2 separate regions of the Homo sapiens genome follow, and region 2 is linked to region 1. Evidence: fine-mapped expression QTL. A gene starts in region 1. The other region holds a variant in brackets. All regions are shown on one strand. Distances are between the middles of the regions.

Region 1 (4,391 bases):
TCCAACTCCTGACCTCAGGTGATCCGCCCGCCTCGGTTTCCCAAAGTGCTGGGATTACAGGCGTGAGCCACCACGCCCGGCCAGCTCTCTGCAGACACCATCTGGGCGTCCTACACTTCAGTTCAATTCTGACGCTGGCCACCCAGAGTTAGCACAGGCCCGAGAGGATATGGGCTCCGTCCTGCAAGACCGTCCCTACTTCAGATGTCAGTTGCAAAGATTGGGCGCTCAGGTTACCCACACTTCCGTCTGACTTGGCTACACATCAGGGGTCCCCAGAACGCCCTCCTCGGGTTTGGTAATTGGCTAAAATGGCTCACAGAACTCAGGGAAACACTTTGGTTACATGTATAGGTTTCTAAGACCTTATACAAACTGGGCCCATTAGTCTTTGCTCCCTGATACTATCTGATACCATCTGGTCTCATTCCTTCCTGAATGGAATAATTCCTTCCTCATTCATTATCACAAGGACAATAATGTCCTTGTAAAGGACATTATTGATGATACAGATGAACAGGAAGACGAAGAGGCACACAGGGCGAGCTCTGGTGGGGCCCGGGCACAGGAGCTTCTGTCCCCGTGGAGTTGGGGGGCGCCACCCTCCCAGCATGCGGATGTGTCCACCAGCCCAGAAGCTCTCTGGATCCTGTAGTTCAGGGATTTTTACGGAGGCTTCATTACTTACGCGTGATGGATTATTAGCTCAATCTCCAGCCCCTCTCCCTTTCCTGGAGGGTGGGGGTGGAGCCAAAAGCTCCAGGCTCCTCGTCGAATCTGGGTCTTTCTGGTGCTCAGCCCCCAACCCCACCCAGGAGCCACTGAGAGTCACCTCATTAAACCAAAGACAAGGGATTAGGAGCTTTGTGTCAGGAACCCGGAAAGAGACCAAATAGAAGTGAATGTTTCTTATTATGTCACACAGCCACACCACGAGGTTGGTGCAGGAGCCCTTGAAGGAAGCCCTTGGAGGATCTGAGACCAAGAGGGCCTGATCAGATCGGAGTTTTGGAAATGTAACCTGGCAGCCTAGGGGAGGACTGGACAGAGTGGGGAGGACAGAGGGGAACTGATTCACCAGAGGGAGGGCGTGAAGTGAGTGAATGAATGAGTGAACCAATGAATGAACAAGATGGGAAGGAAGGAGTGAGACCAGATGGTATCAGATAGTATCAGGGAGCAAAGACTAACGGGCCCAGTTTGTATGAGGTCTTAGAAACCAGATCAAGGAGGTGGGATCAACGGTGCTTTCCTCTAAAGAAGCACATTTCCGGCCGGGCGCGGTGGCTCACGCCTGTAGACCCAGCACTTTGGGAGGCCGAGGCGGGTGGATCACCTGAGGTCAGGAGTTCGAGACCAGCCTGGCCAACACGGTGAAAACCCATCTCTACTAAAAATACAAAAATTAGCTGGGCATGGTGGGGGGTGCCTGTAATCCACACTACACAGGAGGCTGAGGCAGAGAGAATGGTTTGAACCCCCGGGAGGCAGAGACTGCAGTGAGCTGAGATCACGCCACTGCACTCCAGCCTGGGCGACAGAGCGAGACCCTGTCTCAAAAAAAAAAAAAAAAAAAAGAAGCAGCAGCAGCAGCAAATTTCCAGGAAGAAGCAGGCTATGGAGATCAGGGCAGGCAAAGGACAGAATTAGGTTAGTGCATCAACTGGGTCCAACCAGGAAGACACATGTGTTTATCTCCTGCAGCACCAAAAACCACCCAGAAGACAGCTCAGTGGACCCTAGCAGTGGATTCTACATGTCTGCAGAAAATGAGCAGAAAACAAGCCAGAGTTACAGCTATCTGCAGAGAGACTACATCCAGGAGGTCTGAAGACTGAAAGTAATCACTGCAGTCTGACTTCTACCACTGACACCCTTCCCATACATAATTTAAATGTGTAATTATAATACCATTGCTTAGTTAACGGACACCAATTCGTGCAGGAGCTGCCACAAACAGTAATAAACCAGCTGTGTTAGAAATGGATCACTTATCAGTGCGTGCCCAAGCCTCCTAATGCCTCATGATGTTTAATAATTAAATTGTGACACCTTGAACCCGCAGCTGACACCATGAATCACAGTGGAATTCTCCAAATGGAATGCAGCCACACCTCAGCTTCTGTGCTGCGTGCTGCCACTGAGGACATTCGATACCATTGAAGCCGTCAGATAGAGGTGGGTTATTTCCCTGTGCCCTGCACCTCCCTTCTGGCAAGTCCCTGGGAAGCAGTGGCCACAGATGAGCTGCTGCTCTCTTAAAGACTGAGATCAGGCCGGGCGCGGTGGCTCATGCCTGTAATCCCAGCACTTTGGGAGGCTGAGGCAGGCAGATCACCTGAGGTTGGGAGTTCGAGACCAGCCTGGCCAACATGACGAAACCCTGTCTCTACTAAAAAATACAAAAAATATTAGCTGGGTGTGGTGGTACGCGCTTGTAATCCCAGCTACTTGGGAGGCTGAGGCACAAGAGTTTCTTGAACCCAGGAGGCAGAGGTTATATGGAGTCTCGCTCTGTCACCCAGGCTGGAGTGCAGTGGCTCAATCTCGGCTCACTGCAACCTCATTTCAGGAGATGAGACCGGCATCCTTGTGGGAGAAGATGGCCCTGAGCTGGGCATGGCAGAAGGGCTGCGGAGTGTGTGTGTGTGTGTGTGTGGTGTGTGTGTGTGTGCACACATGCGCACATGTGTGTGTGAGAGAATGTGTGTGTGTTGGAGATGATTACCGAAGCCTTCCTGGCACATAGTAGGTCTTTTTTCCCACAAAGAGTAATGTGATTATTGGTAGTAATGGTGACTGTCACCGTGCTTCTCACAGGCCGTATTTCAAAAGGTCTACGGTGGCTCCGTTTCTTCTCTGAGACTTCAAAAGTCCTTCAAGAGTGAGTTCCCGTCTCATTCTATGTCCAGGATGAAGACGGATGGCCTCTTGGCACCCATCTCTTTGGCATGAACGATGTGGGGAAACGTGAATGGAAATGGGGAACTGTTGCTGGCACCCAGAAGTCATCCGGTCCGGATGAAGCCAAGTCACAAGGAAGTGCCTCCAATTATTCTTCATAAATTCCTCTGAGGTTTCACTTCTTGTCCACACAAGACTTTAATAAAATGTGGCATCTAACTGAATAAAGACTATCCTTTCGGGTGTGTGTGTCATGACAGTACTATTTATGGAGGACCTCCTGTGTAGCAGTTCTTGCACTGTTTTACGTAATCATCCCCTTTCATCCTAACAATCACTCCTGTGAAGTATGTGTCCTTATTTTCATTTCGTTGTAGAGAAAACCAAGGCTCTGAGACATTAAGCAATGTGCCCAAGGACACACAGCTAGTAAGTGGCTGGATTTGAGCGCAAGCCTACAAGAAACTGTAAGTTTCTTATTTGTATTTATTAATTCATCATATTGTCATTTCTTCAAAATGCAACTGAATCTCATAAAATGTCAGTGGCAGAATCTAGGTGGAAGGTGCCCTGGTATTCACTGTAAAATTCCTTCAACTCGGCTGTATATTTGAAAATTTTCATGTTACAATATTAGGAAAAAAACCCTTGATTTCCAGGTGTTTTTTCACCTGGACAAACTTGAGAACTTTGGAAAAGCTGGCTTACCTCCTCGAATTCTAGTTGGCTGGCTTGGCTGGGTTGGCTGGGTGGGCCCTGGCACCCTCCACTCAATGCCCACCTGCATGTTAAAACGGGTCCTGCTAGGACCCTGGGCAGCCCAGGCACTTCTGACACATGCCACAGACTTCCTCTGTACAGTAGAATAGATGTCCCTTAGGAATAAAAAAAAAAAACAGGCAGCTTTCTGGTCGAATACCACTCTATGACACCTTCTGGGACCTTCCCTCCAAGTTTCTTCTACCAGATCAACAAGAAGGATTCAACTTGGTGTCTCTGTGTGTTTTGCTGTCTCATGCTGCTTATAAACTGCTTTGCCTTTAGCAATGTCCCTCAGTTATCTTGTTCTAAGGCTACAATTAAGAAGGAATCACTGTTGTGGAGGAACTCAGAGGCACCTCCAGCTCCCATTAGCTGGTCCCTTAATGCCGCTGATGCGAGGCTCTGACAGTAATTACTTTGCAAGTATAATGAGATACTTATGGGTCCATCAGGTGCCCAACCCATAGCATGATATGAAATATGAAGAGTTAAGCTGGTGGGTAATTTACACAACTGTCTACCAAGTCTCTCCAGGATGATTAAGAAAAGGAAATGCCGGATTGAAAAGATGCCAAGCTTCCAGAGCGCGTTCATGTGGCTCGATTGACAGTGGCAACCATTATCGTCATCACCGTCATCGCTGCTTTTAACGGTTAATGATAATAAGCCGTCACACACGGATGCAGCACTTTGCAATGCACAAAGCCCTCTTGCACTCATGCTCT
Region 2 (4,391 bases), 5.1 kb before region 1:
CACCGAGGCCTGCGGGCTAGCCGCTGCTGGGGCGGGGGCCGGTCACGAGGAGTTGCTAGCAATAGGCTGCGTCCTGTTGTTGCACGAATGATCTCAACTCCTGCTCTGGGACAGGGGTTTGCTCGCTCATCAAATTACAGCAGGCTTGTGTCAGCTCCAGCTGGTAGCTGGGCAGCATTTGCACTCTGGGTGCCTCCTGGGAGAAGCCTGGAGCGCAACTCACTTCAGTAGGAAGGGAGGTAAATGAAAACCTGGAAGCTGCGACAGGAGCCCTCTACTGAGAAAAAGAAACTGCAGAAATCGGCCTAGGGCAACTCTCCGTAAGACAGAAGTTTTACAATGTTCATTTTCAGGTGATTTCTTTTTTCTTTTTTTTTTTTTTTTTTGAGACAGAGTCTTGTTCTGTTGCCCAGGCTGGCGTGCAGTGGCGTGATCTCGGCTCACTGCAACCTCCGCCTCCTGGGTTCAAGCGATTCTCCTGCCTCAGCCTCCTGAGTAGCTGGGACTACAGGCGCCCGCCACCACGCCCAGCTAATTTTTGTTTTAGTGGAGACTGGGTTTCACCATGTTGGCCAGGCTGGTCTCGAACTCCTGACCTCAGGTGATCCTCCTACCTCGGCCTCCTAAAGTGCTAGGATTACAGGCATAAGCCACCTCATTCAGCCTTTTTTAAAAATTTATTTTTATTTATTAAACATTTTTCAAAGTGGTAAAATATACATAAGATAAAATTGACCATTTTAATCATCTTTGAGCGTATAATTTTCAGCAGCACTAAGTTCATTCATATCGTGGTACAGCCTTCACCACCATTCACCTCCATAACTTTTCTCATTTTCCCTAAGTCCCCATTAAATACCAGCTCTCTGTCCCCCTCGCCCCAGGCCCTGGCACCCACCATTCTATGAATGCTTCCTGTCTCTACGAATTTGACTCCTCTAGATTCCTCATCTGAGTGGAATCATACAGTATTCGTCCTTTTGTGACTGCGACTCTTATTTCACTGAGCACAATGTCCTCAAGATTTATCCATCTTGTGGTCTGTGTCCGAATTTCCTTCCTTTTTAGGGCTGAATGATATTCCATTGTATGAACAGACCACATTTTGGGTTTGTTTGTTTTTCTTTTTTTGAAACGGAGTCTCACTCTGTCACCCAGGCTGGAGTGCAATGGCGCGATCTCGGCTTATTGCAGCCTCTGCCTCCCGGGATTCAAGTGATTCTCCTGCCTCAGCCTCCCAAGTAGCTGGAATTACAGGTGCATACCACCACACCTGGCTAATTTTTATATTTTTAGTAGAGATGGGGTTTCACCATGTTGCCCAGGCTGGTCTTGAACTCCTGACCTCAAGTGATCTGCCTGCCTCGGCCTCCCAAAGTGCCGGGATTACAGGCAAGAGCCACCATGCCGGGCCTGGTTTTCTGTTTTTTTGAAATAGGGTCTTGCTCTGTTGCCCAGGCTGGAGTGCAGCTGCGTGATCTCAGCTCACTGCAACCTCCCACCCCCCAGGCTCAAGTGGTCCTCCCATCTCAGCCTTCTGAGTAGCTGGGACTATAGGCATGCACCACCACATCCAGCTAATTTTTTTTTCTTTTTTGGTTGATATAGGATTTTGCCATGTTGCCCAGGCTGGGCTCAAACCCCTGGGCTCAAAAAATCTGCCATCCTTGGCCTCCCACAATGCTGGGATTACAGCCATGAGCCACTGCACCTGGCCATAGATCACATTTCGTTTATCCGTTTGTCCATTGGTGAACA[A/T]TTGGGTTGCTTCCGCCTTTTGGCTATCGTGTAGGGTGATTTCTATTATGATACTCTTTACCTTTTACAAAATTATTTGTATACTAAAAGCATAGGTTGCTTTTATTCACGTTAGTGAAGTTAAATAATGGCCAACTTCATTGGACCCTGCTTCTAGAATTCATTTCTCTTATGAAATTGAAACGAGCTTTGTCTTAAACAGTTTGGTGCATTGAGAGAAAATTAAGAAAACACAAATGATGAAAACAAAACGTAGTTCAGTAAATTTGCAATAAACAATGAAAGAAACTTGCTTTTACTGGGCCTGAAAGACCCCGTGCCAGCCTTCACGTTATCCTGCTGGTAAGTCCCGTAACCACCACTGTGTCTCATTCATCACTGTATCTCTGGGCCTAGCCCTGTACCTGAGTTATAGGAGACATGCCGAAAAATTTTTATTTTTTTAAAAAAGGAGAGTGAGGTGACATTTACTGAGAACTCACAAAGGCACGTGCCTGGGAAAGGAAGAGAAGAACTGGAACAGATATTTTCTGAGCTCCTCTTCCGGACCAGGCACCGTGCCCACGTTTTGTAGTCACCATCTTGCTTCATACTCCCCAAACTCCTGCAAGGTAGTAATTATTAGGCTCACTTTTCAGATGAGAGAACTGATACAGATGAAAAAACTCTCTGGGAGGATCTTGAAAGAGTTGGTAAAAAGTGCTAGATATTGGGTTTGGTCCTACCAGGAGTAAGCGAGGAAAGGGCTCTTTTCCCCGGGGAGTTAATATCAGACTTGCCCCCTCCAGAATATTGGGAATGGTCTCCTCGGCTAAATTGATTTAGTGTGTTCATGCCAAGCCCTTCCTAGGCCTTGTGTCCATGCCTGGTTATTGTTGTGTGTTGTTTTAATTTCATGCATATTTTATTTTTTAATTTTATTTCATGCATACAGGCATTTGCACATAATAAATGGTCAATAGAGATTCACCAAGTTGAACTGAATGTTGTTTGCAAGGAGGAAGGATTGGTTCCACAGTGTCAAAGTTTATCGAGACCTTAAACCAAAGGTAGCCTCTTCTTTCTGCTTGTCATGGAAAGAGCACAGGAGGCCGGAGGGTAAGAAACAGCTTGGCCGTGTCCTACTCTGGGGGAGTTTCTTCGTTTCTGAGGCTCACATTTGTCCTCTGCAAAATGGTAGTAATGATCTCAACCTGGCAGTGTTGTTTGGGGCTGGTGAAGGCCAAGTTGCTGCTGTTTCTCTAACGAAGGTCATCCCTGTCCAGTTAGAAATGTCCTTTCTTTTTCTTTCTTTTTTTTCTTTTTTCTTTTTTTTTTTGAGATGGGGTCTCACTCTGTCACCCAGGCTGGAGTGCAGTAGCATGATCTCGGCTAACTACAACCTCTGCCTCCCAGGTTCAAGTGATTCTCCTGCCTCAGCCTCCTGAGTAGTTGGGACTACAGGCATGTGCCACCACGCCTGGCTAATTCTTGTATTTTTAGCGGAGGTGAGGTTTCACCATGTTGGCCAGGCTGGTCTCGAACTCCTGACCTCAGGTGATCCGCCCGCCTCGGCCTCCCAAAATGCTGGGATTACAGGAGTGAGCCACAGCGCCCGGCCAAAAGTGTCCTTTCTTTTTAATGTCTATTAGAAACAGGCTGTGCTTCTACCTCTGAGCTCCGCATGCCTCTTTCCTCTCACCCCTACCCCACTCCTACCGTGCCTCTCACTGAACACCCAAGGTACCCATTCTCCAGGGCATTAGCCCACCAAGCTGGGCCTCACATCCAGCTGCAAAGATCACCCAAAGCTCTCTGTGCCATGATGAGCTGGCATTGGTCTCACTGTCGTATGACAAACAGGAAAGCTAGCAGGAAAGCCACAGACCGACCTAGTAAGCTTTCTCATGTTACCCTAGGTTAGTCATCGCTGCCAAGTTTTTGTGGCACAGAAAGAAAAAAATAAGCCCCCTCTTAAGCCCATGGAACTGAAGAAGACTGGAATGTGGAGAATGCCCAGTCCTCCTAAATCCCAATTGGAATAATCATGCTGGAATAGATTTCTTCTTGTTCACTCAAAACACTAAGGTTCTCAACAGCAAGTCACCATCACCACAGGCCAGAGCGGATTCACCCGACCTCAGCGCCGTTAGCATTCGGTCCTGGGATGCCAAAGGCTTTCTCTGCTGGGATCTGAGTTTGGGGGTTGAGGTGCTCAAGTTTCCAGGGCGATGCTTCTGGAGGGGTTTTACCAGTTTCTAATACCGAAGGCTCAGGGGAAGCAGTTTCAACTGGGGGCCTCTCTAATCTAGGGAGACAATGGAGAAATAGTTTCTTGTGTGCAAAGCCACTCTTCACACTGGGACGGGCTCTGCTCCCTAGAGCAAGAATTAAACACCTGCTGTGTATGCACAGGAAAGGATGTTCAAGAGAGTGCTTTCTGGGGAATCTGGAGATTTCTTCTCAGATCTGTCTGACTTTTCCTGCAAGAAATGCAGAAAAGGCTGTTGCCTTTTAGGAATGATCAGGAGCACCGTCTACTCCACCGGCTGACTTGAATAACTCACCCTCAAAGGTGCAGGAACCAGGACAAGGTGACCAGGGTGTGGGACTCAGAGAGCTACAGTCTCACGTGACGATGAAACGTCAGGTTC

Which allele goes with the higher level. Positions count from the first base shown, and alleles are read on the strand shown. Sizes are in standard deviations (SD) of each study's normalised expression.
In carriers of allele T in region 2, the expression in aorta of the gene that starts at base 1,932 in region 1 tends to be higher than with A alone (small effect, 0.24 SD a copy in GTEx).

Evidence for each region. PIP is the estimated chance that this variant, and not a neighbour inherited with it, causes the effect.
Region 2: its variant is fine-mapped to the expression of LINC01589 in aorta (GTEx, PIP 0.94).

What each region holds. Positions count from the first base shown.
Region 1 is chr22:45,603,188-45,607,578 of GRCh38, reverse strand. It overlaps LINC01589 (long intergenic non-protein coding RNA 1589), which reads left to right and starts at 1,932. Exons shown (of 2, transcript NR_131244.1): 1 at 1,932-2,178; 2 at 2,821-3,147.
Region 2 is chr22:45,608,278-45,612,668 of GRCh38, reverse strand. No RefSeq gene overlaps it. Among named protein-coding and RNA genes, the nearest start is that of LINC01589, 4.8 kb to the right of the region's middle. The variant A/T (reference allele first, on the strand shown) is at 1,759.